Linked DNA regions of Homo sapiens: all the other regions are linked to region 1. Evidence: fine-mapped expression QTL. A gene starts in region 1. Each other region holds a variant in brackets. All regions are shown on one strand. Distances are from middle to middle.

Region 1 (8,177 bases):
ACCACGCACCTGCAGGGGTGAGACAGATCTTAGCTATTCTAATTATTATGTGTCTTAAGCCATTTCTTTTTTTTTTTTTGCTTTGCTTTTAAAAATTTTTTTCTAGCTCTATTGATGTATAATTGATAAACAGAAATGGTATATATTCAAGGTGTACAATGTGATGAATTGACATAGATATACATAGTGAAATGATTACCACAATGAAATCAATCAACACATCCACCACTACCATTTTGTGTGTGGACACTTAAGATCTATGGTCTTAGCAAATTTCAAGTAAACAATAGAGATAAACTATAGTCATCATGCTGTACATCAGATTGCCCAGAACTTGTTCATCTTATAACTAAAAGTTTGTACCCTTTGATTAACATCCCCCCACTTCTCCCCTCCAGCTACTGCCATTCTACTCTCTGCTTCTATGAGTTTGCTAAGTCACAATTTCTTCATCTATAAAATAGTAATTAAAAGATATCTTCTGTACATAGTTTCTTCTGAGACATAAAAAAAAATAATGCATTTATCCTGGTACCTGACATATAGTAGCTACTTCCCTTCCTTTCCCTGTCAGCAACAGCCTCAAGCCTATCTCAATATGTGGCTTGCTGGGCATTCCCCAAAATACCACTGATGACAAGATCACATTTCTTTTTTTGTTTGTTTTTGAGACAGAATCTTGCTCTTTCACCCAGGCTGGAGTGTAGTGGTGCCATCTCGGCTCACCGCAACCTCTGTCTCCCAGGTTCAAGCGATTCTCGTGCCTATGGCTCCCAAGCAGCTAGGATTATAGGCGTGCACCACCATGCCCAGCTAATTTTCGTATTGTTTGTAGAGATGGGGTTTAGCCACGTTGCCCAAGCTGGTCTCAAACTCCTGGCCTTGAGTGATCTGCCCACCTTGGCCTCCCACAGTGCTGGGATTACATGTGTGAGCCACCACGTCCGGCTTAAGATCGCATTTCTTATCAGAGGCTCGAGAGCTAAACCTTGTGCCTGCATCTCTTGTCCCCTTTGGTCTCACCTGCTCCAGGCAGCTCCGACAGGCTTCCTGGATCAGCTGCTCTGCGTCCACCTCCTCCCCAACATTGTCTCGCACGTTCAGTGCTGCCTTCTGGAAGAACTAGGGGAGCACAACAGAGGACAAGGTCAGAGTCCTGTTAATGTGCATCAACCTGAAGGAAACTGAATATAAAATAAGTCTTTATCCTAGCTTCATACAGAAGGGAAAAGTGATTATGAGCAGGGCTTTGGGATCAGCCAGATTTAGATTCACATTTCAGGCTTGACCTCCTCCCTTTATTCCCCCTCTTACGGATATAATCGTGGGGGTGCCCAACAGATTGAGGTGTAAATAGTGCAAAAAATCAGGACGGGCGCGGTGGCTCACACCTGTAATCCCAGCACTTTGCGAGGCCGAGGTGGGCGGATCACGAGGTCAGGAGATCGAGACCATCCTGGCTAACACGGTGAAACCCCGTCTCTACTAAAAATACAAAAAATTAGCTGGGCGTGGTGGCGGATGCCTGTAATCCCAGCTACTTGGGAGGCTGGGGCAGAGAACTGCTTGAACCCAGGAGGCGGAGGTTGCAGTGAGCCAAGACCGTGCCACTGCACTCCAGCCTGGCGACAGAGTGAGACTCTGTCTCAAAAAAAAAAAAAAAAATTTTTTTTTTTTTTTAGTAGAGATGAGGTCCCACTGTGTTGCCCAGGCTGTTCTCAAACTCCTGGCCTCAAGTGATCCTGCCTCGGCCTCCCAAAGTGCTGGGGTTGCAGGTGTGAGCCACTGTGCATGGCCCCAATAATGGTTATATTATTAAACAACTAATAAGAATACTTATTGGACACTTGTTATGTCTGGAGCACAGTGCTCAGCACAGTACATTTAAGTCACTTCATCCTTATAAGAGGTCAGCAAAAAAAACCACGTGCGTGACAAGGGCAGATTTTAAAAAAAAAAGGTATCTGAATTACCCTCAAGGAGGGAATAAAATTCTTGGGGGATTAAAAATTTGAAAACTGACCAGGTGCCCTGGCTCACACCTATAATCCCAGCACTTTGGGAGGCCAAGGCAGGCAAATCATTTGAGGTCAGGAGTTCGAGACCAGCCTGGCCAACAGTGAAACCCCGTCTCTACTAAAAATACAAAAATTAGCCCTGCAAGGTGGTGGGCACCTGTAATCCCAGCCACTAGGGAGGCTGAGGCATGAGAATCGCTGGAACCTGGGAAGTGGAGGTTGCGGTGAATCGATATTGTGCCACTGCACTCCAGCCTGGGTGACAGAGTGAGAATCTGTCTCAAAAACACAAAACAAAACAAAACAAAAACAACAAGAAAGGAAAACTTTAGATATCTGTATGTAGGAAAGAGACAGACTGGTGATGCAGGCAAGGACTGGGCTCCTCATGAGTCTTTCTCCTGTTATTTTTTATCCTGTGTCCCTCTCACCTTCATGTACTTGTTGAAGACAGTCTGGATCTCCTCGTTGATGCTGGGCTGCAGGACAGCTCGGAGGAGATCCATGGAGATGGCAGGATCTGTGAAACTGCATTCAGGAGGGAGACAGGGTGAGGGGGCATGTCCCAAACATATTCTTTCCCAGCCTCCCCAGTTAATTATGGACATAGAATTCCTTAACAATACTAGACAGCTTTTATTGAAAACTAGCTACATGCTCAGATTTTGTGCAAATCACAGAGGCATGACTTTATTTCTTTCTCATAATAACTCTATGAAGTGCATATTATTTTCAAAGTTTTTTTTTTTGAGACGGAGTCTCACTCTGTTGCCCAGGCTGGAGTGCAGTGGCGTGGTTTTGGCTCACTGCAACCTCTGCCTCCTGGGTTCAAGCAATTCTCCTGCCTCAGCCTCCTTAGTAGCTGGGATTACAGGTGTGCACCACCACGCCCGGCTAATTTTTGTATTTTTAGTAGAGACCGGGTTTCTCCATTTTGGTCAGGCTGGTCTCGAACTCCCAACCTCAGGTGATCTGCCCGCCTCAGACTCCCAAAGTGCTGGGATTACAGGCGTGAGCCACCGCGCCCGGCCAATTTTTTGTTATTTTTAGTAGAGACGGGGTTTCTCCATGTTGGTCAGGCTGTTCTGGAAGTCCCGACCTCAGGTGATCCACCCACCTCAGCCTCCCAAAGTGCTGGGATTACAGGCGTGAGCCACCGCGCCCGGCCCAAAGTGTTTTTATGAAATATAATACTTATACAGAAAAGTCTATACACTTTAATGAGTAATTATAGTGAACATCCATTTCACCACTATCAGCATCCCAAAGGCCCACCTTGTGCTCTCTCCCTTCCCTGACATGCATACTATTAATCCCTCTTTATAGTTGAGAAAACGGGCTCATCAGAGTCTGTTGATGAGAACACAGTTGTCTGACTCCAGAGCCTGTTCTCTTAAACTCCATGCTAACTGACCTCTTTAGAGCCCTCAACCACAGAGCCAGTGAATGTGAGGGATCTTAGGTATTGTTTATTCCACAACCCATCTCCTGTGCCCTTCCCCATTTTGTACGTGAGTTCAGAGAAGGAAGTGACTTGACTAGTTCAAGATCACACAGAGTTACAGAATCGGAGTCTCCTCTTCCTCAGTCCTGTGCTCTTTCTACCGGCTGTAGATCTCCATAGCCTTGTGCACTGGGGATCCCAAATCTGCCATGCAAGCCAGTGGCTGGGATATAAGCCCCATGCAGGGCCAGCCTTACCTTGTTGTCATCTGTGAGCGGCGGCCCCTCCGCTGCACCTGCCGGTGCTTTATCATTATGTTCCAAGGGTTCTGTGGGGACCAACGGAACAAATGTCACTGCGGCCTGTGACACTGGGGTGGGGTGGAGGTGGAGGGTGGGTATGAAGTTAAACCTGGACATCCCTGCTTCTCAGATCCGTCACCATCTCTCCCGCCTTGGGGTGGGACGATAGTTGTAAGGCCTCCTCCACAAAAGAGGAACTGAGGAAGTTTCCTGCCTTAAAAGTCCCGACCCTGCCTTCTGGCACGGCAGGAGGAAGGGAAGCAGTATTTACCGAGGGTCAACTCTGTGTCAGGTGATGTCCGGGGCGTTGTACCCGCCTTTATCTTCCCATCCCACAACAAGTTTTATGAGACAGGTACTAATCATTTCCATTTTATAGAAGAGGATCCTGGGACTCAGGGGGTTGACAGAGATGGCCCACGTCACCTAGCTAGGAGGGCGGCACCAGAATTTAAATCCAGGTCGTCGGGCTGCGAAAACGCCAACCCCCTCTGCAGCTCCAGCCTCCGCGTTCTCTCGCCCGCGGGCCAGGGTCCCAGGAGCCCCGAGGCCGTGCCCGGCCTGAGCCCAGACCTCACCGGGGGCGCCCTCACCGTAAGAACCAGCTGCCCCGCTGCGCCCGCATCCCCCAGCTCCAAGCCGCCCCTCTCGGCCCCGCTAGGTCCCCGCGGCTGCTCGGCGTCGCCAGTGGCTCCCATGGCGCCCCCGGCCCCCACAACTCCGCTGGACTCTGTCACCGGCCGGAAAGTGGCGCCGTGACGTCACTGGAGCGCGCTGCTCGTCCGCCCGGAAGCGCGACGCTGGAGCTGCGGGGTTACCATGGGAACCGAACCGCCGCGCCTCGCCCAGGACAGTTACACTTAGAGGCCTTGTAGGTGGAGGTCGTTGGGGCTTCCTCTCGGGAGGGCTGCGCCTCGATTGTGCAGTGTGGGTGTTCAGTGGCGGTTCAGTCAAGGGATGTTTCCCGCTGGGCCAAGGCCTGGGGATGACTGCGGGGTAGGAGGAAGGGACCAGTTTTCTGTAGGCTGGGGTTGGGGAGCAGAGGGAAGCGTTTGGTACAGCGGCGCCTGCAGTTCAGTTTTTGAAAACTAGATTTTAATATGCTCGGCCAGGGGCGGTGGCTCACGCCTGTAATCCCAGCACTTTGGGAGGCCGAGGCGGGAGGATCACTTGCCATCAGGAGTTCGAGACCAGCCTGGCCAACATGGCGAAACCCCGTCTCTACTAAAAATATAAAAATTAGCCGGGCGTGGTGGTGGGCACCTGTAATCCCAGCTACTCGGGAGGCTGAGGCAGGAGAGTCTCTTGAACCCAGGAGGCGGAGGTTGCAGTGAGCCGAGATCACGCCACTGCACTCCAGCCTGGGCGACAGAGGGAGACTGTCTCAAAAAAAAAAAAAAAAAAAGCACATTAGGCACATGTTAGGTCATCATCAAATGTTAATTATGCCGAGATCGCGCCACTGCATTCCAGCCTGGGGGACAGAGGGAGACTCTGTCTCAAAAAAAAAAAAAAAAAAAAAAAAAAAAGCATATTAGGCACATATGAGGTCATCATCAAATGTTAATTATCTCCATGAGCCAACATCAGCCTTCTAACCATAAGGGCGACTTCCTGGCTCCAAACTTTTTGATCCTATTAAGGAGGTTTTACCTTGTACCTGCCCATAGGACTAAGCAGTGCCAGTGGACACCATTAGGTATCACAGCTAACCAAAGGCATGACCAGGACAGATAAAGAAAAAAAGAAATGGAGAAAAAAGAAATAAAGGAGGTATATGTGGGCAGACTATTTGAGTCATACATAGCAACTTCTCTTGGGTTCTGCCAGCTAGACTTCATACAGTCCAAGAATGGCCTGTGTGGGTTAGAGGGACAAAGATGTAGGTGTTTGGTGCTTTTCATTAGTTCTTAACAAACTCAACTACTGCTTTTCTGTAGGTTTTTGATAGTTTCTTTTCTCTCTTTTTTTTTTTTTTGAGACAGAGTCTCACTCTGTTACCCAAGCTGGAGTGCAGTGGCATGATCTCCACTCACTGCAACCTCTGCCTCCTGGGTTCAAGCTATTCTCCTGCCTCAGCCTCCCACGTAGCTGGGATTACAGGCATGCACCAGCATGCCCAGCTGATTTTTGTATTTTTAGTAGAGACAGGGTTTCGCCATGTTGGCCAGGCTGGTCTCAAACTCCTGACCTCAGGTGATCTGCCCGCCTTGGCCTATTTGATAGTTTCTGAGTGGTCTGTTCCATTCTGTATTTTCTTGGTTGCTAGGATGAACAGGAGCCACAATTTTATTATGCTTGGTTATGTTATTAGCTTTGGCCATTAAGTAGTGTCGTGAATCCCTCCCTCTGTTATTTGGGCTAAAGCCATGTCCTTCCAATGCCCTTTAGGGCTCTCTTTGATTCTTTTTCCAATGGCCACCCCTCCATTTTTCCAGCCACCCACTAGGTTTCTCATCATCCAGGAATATTGTGTATATTGCTTACAGAATTTGATCCTCCCATCACAGGTCCCCTTTGGTAGTGCCAGGAATTTTCCCACACTCCAGCAGCCAATCCCTCTTCTTCTTGTCAGGAGAAGATATTCTTGGGGAGTATTGTGAAAGGGAAGGTTTTGGGACTGGGTTTGGGGCCATCCCTAGTCCTGCTCATACCTCAGCTGATACTCTGGGCAAGGTGTACACCTCTAGCCTGAACTGAGCTCTTGTCCCAACTCTCAGCATCATCATGATGTTAAGCTGCCTCTTTCTTCTGAAGGCACTTCTTGCTCTTGGGTCTCTGGAATCCTGGATAACTGCAGGAGAACATGGTGAGCTATCATTTGGGATCCCTGGCCAACAGTAACAGAAAGTGACTAGAGGAGAGGAGAACTCATCCCCTGCCTTCTCCCAGAGCAAGGTTGCTTGTAAGTGGAGATGATCATCTCTATAGGACAGGACTGGATGAATAGATTCTCAGGATGGCCTGGGTCATTCTTCCTGGCTTTCTTTACCCTCTCTGGACAAGGAGATAGGACTTCCAGTTGGGCTTACTAGAGGTTCTAGCTTTTCCCTAGAACTCATTAAATGAGAACAGGATCATCCCACCCTTTCTCTCTCGTTATCTGCAGGATGGCTGCTCCTTTAGCAGTGGTGGATATATGTTAGTATTTGTGTATGAGGAGGGGAAGGTGGTTGCAGAATTTTTTTTTTTTTTTTGAGATGGAGTCTCACTCTGTCACCCAGGCTGGAGTGCAGTGGCGTGATCTCAGCTCACTGCAAACTCCACCTCCCAGGTTCACGCCATTCTCCTGCCTCAGCCTCCCGAGTAGCTGGGACTACAGGTGCCCGCCGCCACGCCCAGCTAATTTTTTGTATTTTTAGTAGAGATGGGGTTTCACTGTGTTAGCCAGGATGATCTCGATCTCCTGACCTCATGATCCGCCCGCCTCGGCCTCCCAAAGTGCTGGGATTACAGGCATGAGCTATCGTGCCCAGCCAGAATTTTTTTTTTTTTTTAAGAGACAGGGTCTCATTCTGTCACCCAGGCTAGAGTGCAGTGGTGCAGAAATATTTTGGATAGAGATGCCTGGAGGGGCTGAAGGTCCATTCCCCATTTCTGAGGCCTGGCTAGTTACCCCAAACTCAAATAGTATCTTTTGCAGCAAAAGAGGGAGAATGCCCTCCCCATAAGAACCCATGCAAAGAGCTGTGCCAGGGTGATGAATTGTGTCCGGCTGAACAGAAGTGCTGCACCACAGGCTGTGGTCGGATCTGCCGAGACATTCCTAAGGGTATGTTGGCATGAGGGGCAAAATCTGGGCATACTCTCTGACATTGCCTCTGGGATAGATGGAAGTAGAGAGCTTCCCACCTTCTAGGTTGCCTCTGGAAGTCTCCCTTGCCTAGAGTACTTCTTCTTTACTCTTTTAGGGTCCCTCCTCCTTTAATTATTCAGTGCCCCCAGTTGTTTGCCTTCCATCAGGAAAGAGCGCACCATTGATTATCTATGTCTTTTACTTTGGACTCAAAGTTCCTGTGAAGGCTGGAGGGAAGAGTTGTAAAGGGAAGGCTGTGTAAGATAATGATTAAGAGAGTAGACCCTAGAGCCAAGCAGACCTTTTTAAGCCTTAAGCCTTAGCTCTTTATAAATCTTAAGCTTTTAGCCTCAGTTTCCTCATCTATAAAATGGGGATAATTGTGAGGATCAAATAAGATGTTCATGGCACAAGGTAAACGTCAGTAAATGTTACAGTAAATATTTGCTATTACTATTGTTGTTATTATTGTCTCTTTGTCTTAGCACCAGGGTTGAGAGGCTTAAATAAATCTCAGGACTTCCTTTTTCTGTTTTTCCCTTCTGCTGTGCCCGTGGGTGTTGCCAGGCACTATTTTCTCTCTCTCTCTCTCTTTTTTTTTTGAGACGGAGTTTCGC
Region 2 (8,177 bases), 24 kb before region 1:
TTAATATGGCCTTCCAGCCTATCATGACCTGACATCTATGCGACTTCCCCATCCTGTATTATTTTTTTTTTTTGAGACAGAGTTTTGTGCTTGTCAGCCAGGCTGGAGAGCAGTGGCGTGATCTCGGCTCACTGCAACCCCCGCCTCCCGAGTTCAAGCGATTCTCCTACCTCAGCCTCCTGAGTAGTTGAGACTACAGGTGCCTGCCACCATGCCCGGCTAATTTTTATATTTTTAGTAGAGATGGGGTTTCATCATGTTGGTCAGGGTGGTCTTGAATTCCTGAGCTCAGGTGATCTGCCCGCCTTAGCCTTGCAAAGTGCTGGGATTATAAGCGTGAGCCACCACGCCTAGCTCTGTATTCCTCTCCTTACATACTCCTGAACTTCTTGCTATCCAAGGAATGTGCATCTCCCTCAGGGCTCAATTTCCTTCTCCAAAAACCTTTCCCTGACCCTCCTATTCTATTGGGTGCTCCACCTGTGAACTTACATAGCAATATGTGAGTTCAGCACCAACATTTATTCAGTGCTTACTATGTGCCAGGCATTGTTCTAAGGTCCTTCCACTGTCTTATGAGGTAGGTACCAGTATTTTCATTTTACGGAGAGGTTAAATGTAACTGCCTACATGTTTACGGGCAACATGGAGGTGGAGCCAGGATCCTGAAACAGTTCTGCTTACCTGGTCTGAGCTTTTCTTTTTCTTTTTTTTTTTTTTTGAGATGGAGTCTTGCTCTTGTTGCCTAGACTGGAGTGCAATGGACGATCTCGGCTCACTGCAATCTCCGCCTCCCAGGTTCAAGCGATTCTTCTGCCGTAGCCTCCCGAGTAGCTGGGATTACAGGCACTCGCCACCATGCCTGGCCAATTTTTTGTATTTTTAGTAGAAACGGGGTTTCACTATGTTGGTCAGGCTGGTCTCAAACTCCTGACCTCAGGTGATCCACCCGCTTTGGCTTCCCAAAGTGCTGGGATTACAGGCATGAGCCACCGTGCCCAGACTGGTCTGAGCTTAATAACTGGGCTGTATGGCACTTATTCCGCAGTCCCCGCTGTTGATGGGCCTGTCTGTCCCCCAAATTCCAGCCTCTTTAAGGGCAGAGCTGTATTTTCCCTGTTTTGTCCCCAGCCCCAAGCAGAGGGCCTTTGTCTTGTAGGAATTCAATAAAATGGGAATCATAATAACCAGAAATTCAAATACTTCCTGACCAGGCTTCTTTCTGTTGCAAGTGCCAGAAATCTAAATCAAACGGACTTAAACCAAAAAGGGATTTGTTAGTTTATCGAACTGGGATGGCAAAGCATGAACTGGAGGCCAGAGTCTCAGTTAATGTCATCTCTCCGACTCCCAGCTGTTTGTCTCTACTTGGCTTTCTTCCGTCTGCAGCGGGCTCCCCCAGCAGCTGAGACTGACTCCCTTCTCTTTTAGCAACCCCATTAGTAAAATAACTTTACTCTCTCCCAGTGATTAATTCCAGACAACACCAGTTGAATCTGAACTACAGTTTAGACCTGTGACTGGCCCAAGGCAGGCCATGTGGCCATCTAAGGTACCAAACACCGTGACCAAGGACCACATGGCAGATGAAAACACATCCACCACAGTTAGTATTCGAAACATTTCTTTTAGAGATAAGGTCTTACTCTGCTGCCTAGGCTGGAGTGATAAGCTTACTATAACCTTGAATTTCTGGCCCCAAGTGATCCTCCCACCTTGGCCTCCCAAGATGTTGAGATTGCTGATGTGAACCACCAGGCCCGGCCAAGATTTATTTATTTTTCTTTTAAAATTTATTATTTGAGATGGGGGTCTCACTGTGTTGCCCAGACTGGTCTTGAATTCTTAAGTTCAAGCAATCAATCCTCCTGCCTCCGCCTCCCAGAGTGCTAGGATTACAGGGAGTGAGCCACCACACCCGGCCCTGGCCAGCATATATTGACTAATTTAGTGCCAGGTTCTGAGCTCTGGTTTTCTCCAGTATCCGCTAACCTAGTGATTTTCAACCGTGGGAGACCTTCAGAACCTGGAGGGCAGTTTGGGGTCAAGAATTTGCCTAACAAGTTCCGGGTGATGCTGCTGCTGCTGGAAGGACCACATTCTAAGAACATTGCTCTAAATTTTGTTCTTAAGCAGACCGCAGCAATGACATCACTTGGAAACTATTTAGAAACCAAAATAAATAAACAGACTGGATCTTAGGCTCCACTTCACACCTACAGAAAAGAATTTAACAAGATCCCAAGTGTATTTGTATGAATGTTAGATTAAGAAAAAACCCAAGAGGAGAGACCTAAGAGCACAATTATAGACATGAAGGGACCCAACTTCCAATCCCAAACCCCTCCCGCTTCAGGCTTGCACAACCAACCAGCTGCTAACAGACCTGAAGGAGTTGGGTGCAAGGTTGGAGCACATCTGGATGCTGCTTATCTACCTTGGAGATCTTCCTGAAGGGCTTTGTGGGGGCCCTATCACTTCAACCTACTCTTCCACCTGCCGACCCTTGTGGGGACCCAGCTGGTCAGCAGGGGTGTTTCCTCCTAGGGGCTCAAAGACTGGAGCCTTCATCAGGCCAGGGGAAAGAGGCAGCCCAAGGGGCTGGGGGCTCCCTGGGGGATATGCAGCAGGAGGCGACTGTGCCCCCTTGGAGGTGGAGCTCCACCGGGGACCTGGGCTAGAGCCTGGAGACCAGAGCTCAGACCTGAGTCCTGCCAGGGAAGGGGCTTTTTTCCTGGCTGTCTCCCCAGGCCCTGGACCTGCTTAGGGTGACCTAAGCATTCTTCTTCAGGACAGAACATGGGTGGCTGTGTGTTGGGATCCCCCCCCCAACACACACGCTTGTTCCTTCTACAGCTATAGGAGTAGGTTTCAGCCTAAGGTCTGGCTCAGCCTCATCTGCAACACAGCTGAGGGAGCTCCAACATTCACTAACATTGCTGGTACACATCACCGACTCCATAGACAGGAGGCATTATTGTGACACTCATTTTATAGATGAAGAAACAGATGCAGAGTCATAAAATAAGGTACAAGGGAATAAATCTTTGTCACCCCATTGCTTGGCCCCACATCCTTAAGTTCCACCTCTGCCTACCCTGAGTACCTCCAACCCTAGTGAAATTACAACGCAACAACTTGTCTAAAAAAGGACAAAAATGCATTTATTTAATATACAAGGGCTCAACCGAGGCTTAATTTAAAAGACAAAAACAAAACAAAAATACCACAGCTCAAGATAAAGAGTCCTATACAGAAATCACAAAAAGGACAGACCATCTAAGGAAAAATTAAAAAGACGACACAAGGACAGGCTGGGCAGCCTGGGTCAGGGCTCCTGGCTGGTGACCTGCTTTGAGTAGGTTTCTTGCAGGTACTTCTTAAAAGCTGGAAGAGAACAGGCAGGTCTCAGTGAGTGATGGAGACAGGATGAGTTAATCTTTACTATTTATTATTTTTGAGATGGAGTCTCACTCTGTTGACCAAGCTGGAGTGCAATAGCATGATGTCTGCTCACTGCAACCTCTGCTTCCTAGATTCAAGTGATTCTCTTGCCTCAGCCTCCTGAGTAGCTGGGACTACAGGTGCCTACCACCATACCCGGTTAATTTTTTTTGTATTTAGTAGAGACGGGGTTTCACCATGTTGGCCAGGCTGGTCTCAAACTCCTGACCTCATGTGATCCACCCACCTCGGCCTCCCCAAGTGCTAGGATTACAGGCATGAGCCACTGTGCCTGGCCCAGGATGAATTAAGGTGGGCAAGAGGCAGCTGGACCAGGGATGCAAAGGTCGGAGGAGGTGGAGGAGGGGCTGGTTTCCCAGCCCGGCATTCTCCCTGCACTGCCCATCTAGGCAGCTCTCCTGGAAGGGCTTGCTTCCAGTGAGACTGGAGGGCACAGGCAAGGCACTCTACTGAATTCCTGGCCTCAAGCTATCCTCCTGCCTTGGTCTCACCAATAATTTCCCAAAATTATTTATCGCCAAACATTTTTATTCTGCTATAAAACAATTGCTATTTTATAGCAAATAGGAGCACTGGGGCAGAAACAGAAGTGGGTTGCTGCCGACACTCCACCCTGCCCCAACCAACCCGGTCCCAAGTCACTGGGCTCCTTTTGTTTGAGGGAGCCTTTGAAGGTTGGGGGAGGGATCACCCTGGGCTCAAGGACTGAGGACTCACCTGTGGGGTTTTTCCAGAGCTCGGCAGCATGTGTGTTCAAGGGACTATCAATGTTGGGTTCTGTGGGTGGAGAGAAAGAGAAGGTCAAGGCGGTAGAAGAGGCTGACCCCAGGGAGTCCTGACAGGTTCCCAAGTTGCATGGAGGGGAGGGGTGGTCTCTAAAGTCACCTCCTAGAAGGCTCTGGATGGAGAGCAGAATGGTCCTGACATCATACAGGGCAGACCACTTTTCCTTCAGGATGTCCAGGCATATGTTACCCTGGGTGTCCACGTTGGGGTGATAGCAGGGCGTGAGGAACTTCACTGTGGGCGCATTGTAAGGGTAGCCACTGGGGAACTCTAGCGAGAGCTTATACCTCAGGTCTTCATATACCTGGCATTTGGAGAAACAGTTGCAGAGTAAGCTCCAGCAGCAGCCTCATGTCCCAACCCAAGCCCCACACAAGGGGCTTGCTAGAATCTTGAGTTTCTCTGGGACCGGACAGTAGACAAACTGTTGAGCTGGTTCTGATGCTCCCCACTGCCTTTTTAAAAAGTTTTTTTAGTTTAGTTTTTATTTTAGAGACAGGGTTTCACCATGTTGCCCAGGCCAGTCTCAAACTCCTGGGCTCATGTGATCTGCCTGCCTCAGCCTCCCAAAGTGCTGAGATTACAGGTGTGAGCCACTATGCCTAGCCTGATGCTTTCCTCTTATCTGGTGGAGACATCAGTGACTCTTTGGTCTAAGGATTGTAAATTGGCATCCTGTGCTTTAGTTCAATTAGAATATTAGTTGCTGGCCGGGCG[T/C]GGTGGCTCACGCCTGTAATCCCAGCACTTTGGGAGGCCGAGGCGGGTGGATCTTGAGGTCAGGAGATCGAGACCATCCTGGCTAACAAGGTGAAACCCCGTCTCTACTAAAAATACAAAAAATTAGCCGGGCGTGGTGGCGGGCGCCTGTAGTCCCAGCTACTCGGAGGCTGAGGCAGGAGAATGGCGTGAACCCGGGAAGCGGAGCTTGCAGTGAGCCGAGATTGCGCCACTGCAGTCCGCAGTCTGGCCTGGGCGACAGAGCGAGACTCCGTCTCAAAAAAAAAAAAAAAAGAATATTAGTTGCTAATACGTAAAAATTAGATTTGGCACAGATTTGGACTTCTGACTCATCTTAAACCTGATCTGCAGCAATGGGAAGCTGCCTTCTTGAGATCTGGCCCTATTGGCCAAAGTCCTCACTTCATCCATTTCCTTGCTGTCTGTCCCCCCATGTAAACATCTAAGATAGGCAGCCCTGCTTTAAACCCACCCTTTATTGCACAGAGGGAAAGAACAAGGCCACATGGCTCAGAGAATGTAAACAGTCACAGGAGGAGTGTCTTGCTCCGCCAAAGGCTTGAAGCAGAGCTCGCACTTGGATCTCACTTCCCACCTTTCCCCAGACTCACTCACCCATCCCAGCCCTACACTTACTGTTCCAGCTGCTCCATGGATGGTCCCTACCCATTTGAAAAGGTTGTCTGATTCAGGGAAGGCAGAAATCCCTTTATCGCCAGACATCTGGGGAGAAAACACATTTGTTGGAATGTGGAGTACACTTTTGGGCATAGCAAAGGTCAGTGGGTGAGCTTTCCCCTTAATTTTATATATATATATATATATATATATATATGCTCACATACACACACACACATATATATGTATACACACACACATATATATGTGTATATATATGAGATATAGATGGGGTTATGCCATCTCTACTAAAAAATATATATTTACATATATATATATATAGAGAGAGAGAGAGAGAGATTGAGAGAGAGAGATAGACAGAGACAGACACACACACACACTCTGTCGCCCAGGCTAGAGTGCAGTGGTGCGCTCGGCTCACCGCAACCTCTGTCTCCACGGTTCAAATGATTCTTGTGCCTCAGCCTCCCGAGTAGCTGAAATTACAGGCATGCACCACCATGCCTGGATAATTTTTGTATTTTTAGTAGAGACAGGGTTTTGCAATGTTGGCCAGGCTGGTCTCGAACTCCTGACCTCAAGTGATCCGCCCACCTTAGCCCCCCAAAGTGTTGGGATTATAAGGTGTGAGCTACCGCGCCCAGCCTCCCCTTAATCTCATCACTCTGATCCAAAATAAAGCAACCAAATTCATAGGCTAGAAATACCAAGAAGGGCGGGGAGTTGGGTGTGGGTAAAGCTTGGTTGGGGCTAGGAAGTAGGGACACACTGGATAGGGAGGGTCTTGTATGACTTCAGGGAAGTGTTCGAGATAACTTCGTGTGGGGGGATGGAATTGGGAGGAGGGACTGCTGGAAGAAATGGTGTAGGTGGGGTGTATGAACTTCTTTCCCAGGAGGGAGCAAATTACATTACCCCTATGTCTAGCAAAAAAGCTGACGGAAAAAAGGAGGCTACTGAAAATTGGATGGAAGGCTGGGGTTCTGGGCACTTAATCACTCACCATGAGGGTCATCAGCTCCTGCTGTAGCCTGAAAAAAGAGTATTCGGGGTTACCTGGGAGTCTGGATGGGCCAGGCCTCCAGACGGTGCATCTTCTCCCACCTGAATCTCAGGGGGAGCCGTCATGGAGGCTCCCCACATCACCAAGGTCAGGCTCAGCTCAGGGTATACTCACCAGATCCACAGGACGATCCTAGCGAGTCCTCACCCTCCCTAATTCCAGACTCCCTCGGGATGATTCTGGCATGTTCTTAATTCCCCAGGCTTTAGCATCTCTTCCTTGCCCGACTCAACTTCTCCCTTCCCCTGTCTCGGCCAAGTCACGAGGGTCCTTGAGCGTCTTCATCTAGGCCCACCAGGGAAGGAGTCTGGCAGCGCCCCTACCCTCCCATTCTCCTTCGGGAGAGTCTCAAAGAGCGGTCTGAGCTCCTGGCCTGTCCCCCATCTCTCGAATCTCACCCGCGCAAGGAGGTGGGAGTCCCGGAAGTCTCCGCCCTCGACACCCATGCCCAGGGGAATGCCAGGCCCCGAGCTCCTGGTGTGTTCTCCTGCACCCGCAGATCTCCCGCTCCAGGAGGTGGCGGCGGGGGGTGGTCCTAGAAATCTTTGCTCTGGGTACCAATGCCTAGGGCATGGCAGGCCCGGCGAGTGGTAGGCCGCATCACTCACCTTTTGCCCACCGGACCCCGGGCGGCGCCCCCGCTCGGCTCAGCTCCTTTACGGGCGGCGGCGACGCTAGTGGCGGCTGGGTCGCGGTTTTGGGAAGCCATCCGGGCGGCGTTGGCAGAGAGACAGGAACTCGGAGAACACGACTGCAACTGCAGGACTGCGGGCCCGCCCGCCCGCGTTTGAATTGTAACCCTCTGGGGGCGTCGACCAATCAATGGCTCGCTTGGGTTTGATCCAGCCAATGAGACGCTCCGGAGCGCTCTATTGCTGCGCCACTGCTAGACCTACCCACTGGCGCACCGCTATTGGGCGGCAGAATCCCGCTTCTGACAACCGATTGGTAGATGATGCTGCCATTAACTAACGAATCCGTAGCGAATTGGTGGCCGTTGGAAAACGCTAACCATTAAAGGGCCAAGAAAACGTCCACGTGGGATGAACCCCTCCTTCTGGCTACACGTCTTACTCCGCGTGGGAACACTCGGCACGCCCAGCCTTGATCCAATTTCCCTCGGGCAGGGAGTGCCTCCAATCCTGCAGCACTGGTACCCTCCCACCATTATAATCGCCTGGGCACCTTTGCTGCGTCCTAAGTATCTGAAAATCCCAGCGAGGGGAAAAACTAAAGGCTGATGGCCAGAGCAGCAGGCTCCCTATTAGAAAACATAGGTCCATACATCTCCGCAGAGATGACAGAAATAAAAAAAGGCAACATTGGTTCAGGCTGGTCGCAGTGGCTCACGTCCGTAATCCCGAACACTTTGGAAGGCCCAGGCAGGAGGATCACTTGAACCCAGGAGTTCGAGACCAGCCTGAGCAACAGGATAGGGAGACCTGTCTCTACTTAAAAGAAAAAAAAAAAAAAAGAAAAGAAAAAA
Region 3 (8,177 bases), 36 kb before region 1:
TCACAGCGTCCTGGGGAAGAGGCTGTAACTGGACATTAATGGTCCATTTTCAAGATGAAGAAACTGAGGCAAAGTGACTTCCCCAAGATCCACATCTGGGAAATAGAGGGGCTGGGATTTTAAGCCTAAGTTTGTGCAATTTTATTTATTTATTTATTTATTTTTAGAGAGGGAGACAGAGTCTTGCTCTGTCGCCCAGGCTGGAGTACAGTGATGCAATCTTGGCTCACTGTAACCTCTGCCTCCCAGGTTCAAGCAATTCTCCTGCCTCAGCCTCCTGAGTGGCTGGGACTACAGGCATGTGCCACCATGCGGCTAATTTTTGTATTTTTAGTAGAGGTGGGGTTTCACCATATTGGCCAGGCTGATCTGGAACACCTGGCCTCAAGTGATCCACCTGCCTCTACCTCCCAAAGTGCTGGGATTACAGGCGTGAGCCACTGTGCCTGGCCAGTTTGCACAATTTCAAACCTCGAATTACTCTTCATTTGGCTTATGGGCAAGATATTGGGACAAAAAAGGCATACTTCATTCATTAATTCAACACTCACTCATTCACCAACCATTGGTTAAAAAATAACTTGTCCTTCGGTATATGCCTTACATGTCTGGGCACAAAGCTGGTCTTCATGAAACCATGGGTTGTTAGAGCAGGAGGGCCCCTCAGAAATCTGGCCTATCACCTCCATTTTACAGATAGGTAGTCTGAGGCTTAGTGAGGGGAAGGGCTTATGCTGGGTCATATAAACAGTCAGAACTAGGAGATCTGAAGGTTGCGCATTCTCCACTATTATTATTTCTTCTTCTTTTTGCTTCCTTCTTCCTCCTCCTGCTTCTTCTTCCTTTTTTATTTATTTTTATTTATTTTATTTTTTTTGAGACAGAGTCTTACTCCATCACCCAGGCTGGAGTCCAATGGCACACTCTTGGCTCACTACAACCTCCATCTCCTGGGTTCAAGCGATTTTCCTGCCTCAAGTAATCCCAAGTAGCTGGAATTACAAGTAATCCCAAGTAGCTGGAATTACAGGCATGTGCCACCACACCCGGCTAATTTTTGTATTTTTAGTAGAGATGGGGTTTCACCATGTTGGCCAGGCTGGTCTCGAACTGCTGACCTCAAATGATCCACCTGCCTCAGCCTCCCAAAGTGCTGGGATTAGAGACATGAGCCACCGTGCCCGGCCTCTTCTTTCAGAGACAGAGTCTCACTCTGTTGTGAGGCTGGAGTGCAGGGGTGCGATCATAGCTCACTGCAGCCTCAAACTCCTGGGCTCAAGTGATTCTCCCACCTCAGCCTCCCAAGTATCTGGGACTACAGATATGTGCCCACCATGCCTGGCTAGTATTTTATTTTTTGTAAAGGTGGGGTTGCATGTTGCCCAGGCTGATCTTGAACTCTTGGCCTGAAGAGATCCTCCTACCTCTGCCTCCCAATGTGCTGGGATTACAAGTATGAGCTACCACCCACCATTCTTTGTTTTATTTTAATTTTTTAATTGGAGACAGCGTCTCGCCATGTTGCCCAGGCTGGTATTGAACTCCTGGGCTCAAGAGATCCACCTGCCTCAGCTTCCCAATGTGCTAGGATTAAAAGTGTGAGCCACTGCCCCCATTCTTAAATTCTGTATGGATATCTCCCTACAGCCTCCCTGAGAAATGGTCATCTAGCTCCTGTTTGGGTATACTCAGTGATACGGAGCTCATTACCTCCTGAGGCCACCTGTTCCCATTATTGTTCAACTATGACTATTAGGAAGTTCCCCCTTATATTGAACTAAATACCATCCAGTTCAGTTATTCTTATGTAGAATATAATATCTGTTGAACACCTGCTACATAGCAAGTGCTGAGCACTGGGAAATGTGATGATCTGTAGAACATAGAATGGGTTGTGAGCATAAGGTATGCTCAGTGCTATGATTGAGGAAACTACTAGAGACCACCTTGGACTCCCTGGTCTGGACACAGTGGGGGAAGGATCCCCGAGGAAGTGATGTTAGAGCTTAGAAAGATGATAGGGAAGTAGACAGATGAAGAGAGGAAAGATGGGAGTTTCTGGCAGAAAAAAACAGCATGTGCAAAGGCTTGAAGGTTCATAGAAGGTGGTGTTTAGAGTAGTCTTTTTTTTTTTTTTTTTTTTTTTGAGATGCAGTCTCCTTTTGTCGCCCAGGCTGGAGAGCAGTGGCATGATCTTGGCTCAGTGCAACCTTCGCCTGCCAGGTTCAAGTGATTCTTCTGCCTCAGCTTCCCAAGTAGCTGGGACTACAGGCGCCCACCACCACACCCAGCAGCAATTTTTTGTATTTTTAGTAGAGACAGGGTTTCACCATGCTGGCCAGGATGGTCTCGAACTCCTGACCTCGTGATCTGCCAGCCTGCACCTCCCAAAATGCTGGGATTACAGGCATGAGCCACCGTGCCCAGCCTAGAGCAGTATTTTAAAGTCTGATCAGAGCAGACAGCAACATGATGTGGAGGGAAGGAGTGAGATTAGAAGGGCCAATGGGACCTTGCTTGGCTACATTAAGCAATTTGGGCCTTACCTAATCCCTTGAATAAACAAAAGAACAAAGGCTGGGCTCAGGGGCTCATGCCTGTAATCCTAGCACTTTAGGAGGCTGAGGCAGGCGGATCACTTGAGGTCAGGAGTTTGAGACCAGCCTGGCCAACATGATGAAACTTTTTTTTTTTTTGAGACGGGGTCTTGCTCTGTTGCCCAGGCTGGAGTGCAGTGGTGTGATCTCGGCTCACTGCAAGCTCTGCCTCCCAGGTTCACACCATTCTCCTGCCTCAGCCTCAGCCTCCCAAGTAGCTGGGACTACAGGCGCCCACCACCATGCCCGGCTAATTTTTTTGTATTTTTAGTAGAGATGGGGTTTCACTGTGTTAGCCAGGATGGTCTCGATCTCCTGACCTCGTGATCCGCCCATCTCAGCCTCCCAAAGTGGTGGGATTACAGGCCTGAGCCACCGTGCCCGGTCGATGAAACCTTGTCTCTACAAAAAGTAAAAAATTTGCCGGGTGTGGTAGCTCACACCTGTAATCCCAGTGCTTTGGGAGGCTGAGGTGGGCGGATCACCTGAGGTTGGGAGTTTGAGACCAGCTTGACCAACATGGAGAAACCCTGTCTCTACTAAAAATACAAAATTAGCCGGGCATGGTGGCTCATGCCTGTAATTCCGGCTACTCGGGAGGCTGAGGCAGGAGAATTGCTTGAACCCAAGAGGCGGAGGTTGTGGTGAGCCGAGATTGCACCATTGTACTCCAGCCTGGGCAACAAGAGCAAAACTCTGTCTCAAAAAAAAAAAAAAAAAAAAACCAAAAACAAAAATTAGCTGGGCGTAGTGGTATGTGCCTGTAATCCTAGCTACTCAGAAGGCTGAGGCATGAGAATCACTTGAACCTAGGAGGCGGAGGGTGCAGTGAGCCGAGATTGTGCCACTGCATTCCAGCCTGGGTGACAGAGTGAGAGTCTGTCTCAAAAACAAAACCCCAAAAAACCAAAAAACAATAAAAACTAAATTGGAATCCCATGGGTCTCCCTCACCCTTTGGCACCCTGCCTGCCTGGGGGAGGCCTTATTTAGCTTGGCCCAGCCCTGCTGAGCTTTCCTTGGGAATGTCTATATATAGGGGAAGGGGGCAGCCCAGTTGCCACTGTCCATCTGCATTCCTTGGTGTCCAGCCCCCCTTTCCTGGCCCCAGAGCCTGCTATCGGTTGTCTTGGTGCTCTTTCTGTCCACGTAGCCACTGTCTACAAGCCTTGCCTACTCCCCAGTGCCCAGCCTGCACCTTGTGGATTCTCAGGTTGGGCTCCCTCTGGACTTGGTCTGCCCACCCCTTTACTCCCCAGATGACCAGATTTCTTCACTGAGCTCTAGGAAGGGGCCAGCTGTCCTTTTACCACTTAAAGAACCTTCCCCTGCCTACTCCTTACTTCAAAAAAAGTGAATCCAAACACCCTTTCCCTGGAGAAGGTAACTTTCAGAGAAGGATCTTTGCTTTCAATGATTATTTCTCCTCCAAATGCACATCCTCCTCTCCTCCATCCCTCCATACATTTTTCCATCTGGACAGGTGCCCCAAGGACTGTCTGTCCCAACTTCCCTCCAGTCAGGATTAATAATAAGAATCATCAACATGGGTGGGCATGGTGCCTCATGACTGTAATTCTAGCACTTTGGGAAACCAAGGTGGAAGGATCCCCTGAGCCTAGGAGTTCGAGACCAGCCTGGGCAACATGGTGAAACCCCATCTCTATAAAAATACAAAAAAAAAAAAAGCCAGGGGTGGTGGTGCACCTCTAGTCCCAGCTACTCGGGAGGCTGAAGTGGGAGGATCACTTGAGCCCAGGAGATAGAGGCTGCAGTGAGCTATAATAGCACCACTGCACATCAGCCTTGGTGACAGAGTGAGTATAGACCTTTATAATTTACAAAGCTCTGCAGTCAAGTGGGGATAATCGTTGCTACCTCATAGGAGGA[G/A]CACTAGATGAGATCATGTTAAAATGCTTAGCACAGTGTGTGGCACGTCATGGGGTTCAGTAAACAGTGGCCTACCTGTCACTTTCTCCTCCTATCCCCTGCCCCTTACCATGGTTCAAAGACGGGACATTCCTCTTGCCAAGCACCAACGCTGTGTACCCAGCACAAGCTAGGTGACTTATACCCGGGTTCCCATTTACCATGGTCTCTCTGTGAGGGAGACCCCACAGACAGGTCCAATCCCACAGATGAAGAAATGGCTCAGAGAGGCACTGCTACCGGCCCAAGGTCACACAACTCGCAGAGGCTGGCCTTGGATCTTGGGTTTTGGACTTCAAGGCTTGTACTCTCCCCATTTTACCATGCTGCCTCACCCTTTACTACTCTGATCATCCTTACCATCTTGGAGCCAGTGTGCTTCCTCGGTCGGGGGGACTCCAAGGCAGTGGAACAGGGCAGGCCTTCCTCACAAGAATCTAGGACGTCAAGGCCTGCCACCTGCTTGGAGGCTTAAATTTCTCTGCAAGGGCCCTTGGCTAAATTAGGTAATGGGTTCAGACTGTGGGAGGGGTGGGACTCGCTGACCCCAGGATCTGATTGGGCAGGGTCTCCAGTGCTGGGGAGCAGGGAGGTGGGAGGGGAGGGTGCCCCTACAAATCCCGGGGGCTAGAGCAGGCCAGGTCATCTTTGGGTGGTGGAGTGCAAAGGAGGCGACCTGCAACAGAGGAGTCCCGGTCACCAGCAACCATGGTAAGGACAAGAGGGGACTTTGTGCCTTTACTCACGGGAGCACTCTGGACCCCTTTCAGGCCAGGCCTGGGTGCTCTGTGGGGCAGTAACTTGGATGTTTGAGGTTGGAGCATGGAGGTTCCTGGAACCCAGGTGTCTTGGAGGAAGGCCTTTGACTTTTCTTGAAAGGGGAGGGCTGGGATATTCCAGAGATTGATCCTTAAGGCTTGCTGACTGCCTACTCACTTCTGGAAACTTCCAGCAGTGTCATTCATAGACCTGTGAAGAGCTCTTAGCTTGTTTCCTTCACACAGTGGGGACTCTGAGGGGTCAGAGTGAGTCACCCAGCAGGCCAGTGGCAGGGGTGAGCCAGAAGCCTGGCCAAACCCTCCTATCATCATGGAGAGAAGAAAGCCTCCTCCAGAAGACGGGAGGCCGGCAGGGCGTGGGGCCTGCTCAGATGCAGGGCTCTGGGAGCCCTGAGGATGATGGGAAGGGGCAGAAGATGACAGACCAGAGTTAGAGAGACTCCGCTCTCCTAGAGAGGGCTTCTGATTTGGAGCTGTTGTTTTGGTCTGAGATCCCCCTCCCCACTTCACTTCAAGGAGTAACTAGATCCCAGAGGCCAGCTGCTGTTGCCCATGCCTGACTAAAAATAGCCTGCCCTCCTGGCATAGGGAAAGAGGAGGAGAGGAAGGAGGGGGAGAAGGAGGAGCACTGGTGGCCAGCTGGCTGAAGAGCTCCTTGGAAGCCTCACCCTGTCCTCACTGCCAGCCTCAATCCAAAGCCTCTGACCCAGATGGCCTGGCTTGGATATGACGTGGAAACCCCTGCAGAAATCTCACTTTCATGTCAAGGCCTCCATCACATTCGGCCCCCCATGAGGGGCCTTTTCTCCAATGACTGAATCCTAAGAAGGAAGCTGACAGCCTCCGACTCTGCCAGTTCTCTGAGGGGCGGGATGATGTGTCTTTTATCTCTTCTTTGTGGTTCCAGTGCCTGATCTGTGGCCTGACATGCAGCAAGTACTCAATAACTTTGTGTTGCATTATTATTTATTTGAGAACAAACATTTTATTGAGCAACTATTAAAGTACCGGGCACCATTAGGAGCTGCAGAAAACTGGAAAATAGTGCTGGAATGGTGCTAGCCCTTTACAAAGCCCTTTCACACCCCTGATATCTCATCCCTGAAAAGCTACAGAGAAAAGATGAAGGCACGCTAATTGACGTGCCTAAGGTCACTGGGGGGTGGGGGGGGTTCCCGACTTGGCCTTCAATTGACAAGTGAGAAGGCCTTGGGCTTAACTTGTTGTCTCCTCTCTTTTGCTCAAAACTGGGGTCACAGGCTGCGCGCGGTGGCTCACGCCTGTAATCCCATCACTTTGGGAAGCTGAGGCAGGCAGATCGCCTAAGGTAGGGGGTTCGAGACCAGCCTGACCAACATGGAGAAACCTCATCTCTACTAAAAATACAAAATTAGCCGGGCGTTGTGGTGCATGCCTGTAATCCCAGCTACTCGGGAGGCTGAGGGAGAAGAATCGCTTGAACCCCGGAGGTGGGGGTTGCGGTTGTGGCGAGCTGAGATCGTGCCATTACACTGCAGCCTAGGCAACAAGAGCAAAACTCCGTCTCAAAACAAAACAAAACAAACAAACAAAAAAAACTGGGGTCAGGCCGGGCATGGTGGCTCACGCCTGTAATCCCAGCACTTTGGGAAGCCGAGGTGGGCGGATCACCTGATGTGAGGAGTTCAAGACCAGCCTGGCCAACATGGTAAAACCTCGTCTCTACTAAAAATACAAAAATTAGCTGGGCGTGTTGGCGCATGCCTGTAATCCCAGCTACTCGAGAGGCTGAGGGAGGAGAATCGCTTGAACCCAGGAGGTGGAGGTTGCAGTGAGCCGAGATCACGCCATTGCACTCCAGCCTGGGCGACAGGGCGAGACTGTCACAAAAACAAAAAGCAAAAACAAAAACTGGGGTCAGAAGCTGGGCACAGTGGCTCAAGCCTGTAATCCTAGCACTTTGGGAGGCCGAGGTGGCAGGATCACTTGAACCCAGGAGTTCAAAACCAGCCTGGGTAATATAGTGGGACCCCATCTCTACAAAAAATTTTAAAAATTAGGCGTGGTGTATGCTATAGTCCCAGCTACTCAGGAGGCTGAAGTGGGACGATTGCTTGAGCCCAGGAGGTTGAGGCTGCAGTGAGCTATGATCACACTACTGCACTCCAGCATGTGTGACAGAACGAGACAAAACAAAACTGTGATTGGGTGCTGTGCGGGCACACAATTATGTGACAAGTTTGAAGTTGTTCTTCTGGAGAACCAAGGGCGCTGACAGAGTGGGGGTTGGGAAGAATGGCTTTGAGGTGAGGAACTGCTCTGGGGCTGCCTCTTCAGCTCAGACTTTCTCTGTGTCTCCTGCAGACGGACCAGCAGGCTGAGGCCAGGTCCTACCTCAGCGAAGAGATGATCGCTGGTGAGTGAGGCGCGGCAGGCTGGGGGCTGGGTGGATGTATGCTGGGGACATGTTGGCCTCTAGGCAGGGTGGGGGTTGGGGGGGGGTAGGTGTGAGGCTGACAGTCCAGCAGGCCTCACCTCTGCCCTCTGCCCTCCCTCGCAGAGTTCAAGGCTGCCTTTGACATGTTTGATGCTGATGGTGGTGGGGACATCAGCGTCAAGGAGTTGGGCACGGTGATGAGGATGCTGGGCCAGACACCCACCAAGGAGGAGCTGGACGCCATCATCGAGGAGGTGGATGAGGACGGTGAGCGGGTGTCCCTCGGAGGCAGGGGATGGTGGGGAGAGGCGGCAGCGGCTGGGCTCAGGCTCAGTCTGCCACCTGCTGCCCGCAGGCAGCGGCACCATCGACTTCGAGGAGTTCTTGGTCATGATGGTGCGCCAGATGAAAGAGGACGCGAAAGGGAAGAGCGAGGAGGAGCTGGCCGAGTGCTTCC

Which allele goes with the higher level. Alleles are on the strand shown, and positions count from the first base shown. SD is a standard deviation of normalised expression in the study named. Not every link is listed here.
For the expression in ileum of the gene that starts at base 4,513 in region 1, allele T in region 2 goes with a lower level than allele C (moderate effect, 0.55 SD a copy in GTEx).

What was found.
Region 2: its variant is fine-mapped to the expression of DNTTIP1 in ileum (GTEx, PIP 0.96).
Region 3: its variant is fine-mapped to the expression of DNTTIP1 in blood mononuclear cells (TOPMed, PIP above 0.99).

The regions. Positions count from the first base shown.
Region 1 is chr20:45,788,290-45,796,466 of GRCh38, reverse strand. DNTTIP1 (deoxynucleotidyltransferase terminal interacting protein 1) reads right to left here and starts at 4,513. Exons shown (of 13, transcript NM_052951.3): 1 at 4,358-4,513; 2 at 3,720-3,790; 3 at 2,450-2,546; 4 at 1,024-1,122. The coding sequence starts at 4,462. WFDC3 (WAP four-disulfide core domain 3) reads left to right here and starts at 4,584. Exons shown (of 7, transcript NM_080614.2): 1 at 4,584-4,635; 2 at 6,485-6,573; 3 at 7,408-7,536. The coding sequence starts at 6,492. RefSeq lists silencers at 3,811-3,950, 4,161-4,430.
Region 2 is chr20:45,811,919-45,820,095 of GRCh38, reverse strand. UBE2C (ubiquitin conjugating enzyme E2 C) reads right to left here and starts at 7,452. Exons shown (of 6, transcript NM_007019.4): 1 at 7,300-7,452; 2 at 6,632-6,659; 3 at 5,626-5,712; 4 at 4,351-4,555; 5 at 4,183-4,242; 6 at 3,144-3,387. The coding sequence starts at 7,400. The coding sequence ends at 3,329. RefSeq lists an enhancer at 833-1,481 and a silencer at 7,460-7,649. The variant T/C (reference allele first, on the strand shown) is at 4,969.
Region 3 is chr20:45,824,305-45,832,481 of GRCh38, reverse strand. It overlaps TNNC2 (troponin C2, fast skeletal type), which reads left to right and starts at 5,170. Exons shown (of 6, transcript NM_003279.3): 1 at 5,170-5,236; 2 at 7,648-7,699; 3 at 7,844-7,987; 4 at 8,076-8,177. The coding sequence starts at 5,234. The variant G/A (reference allele first, on the strand shown) is at 4,487.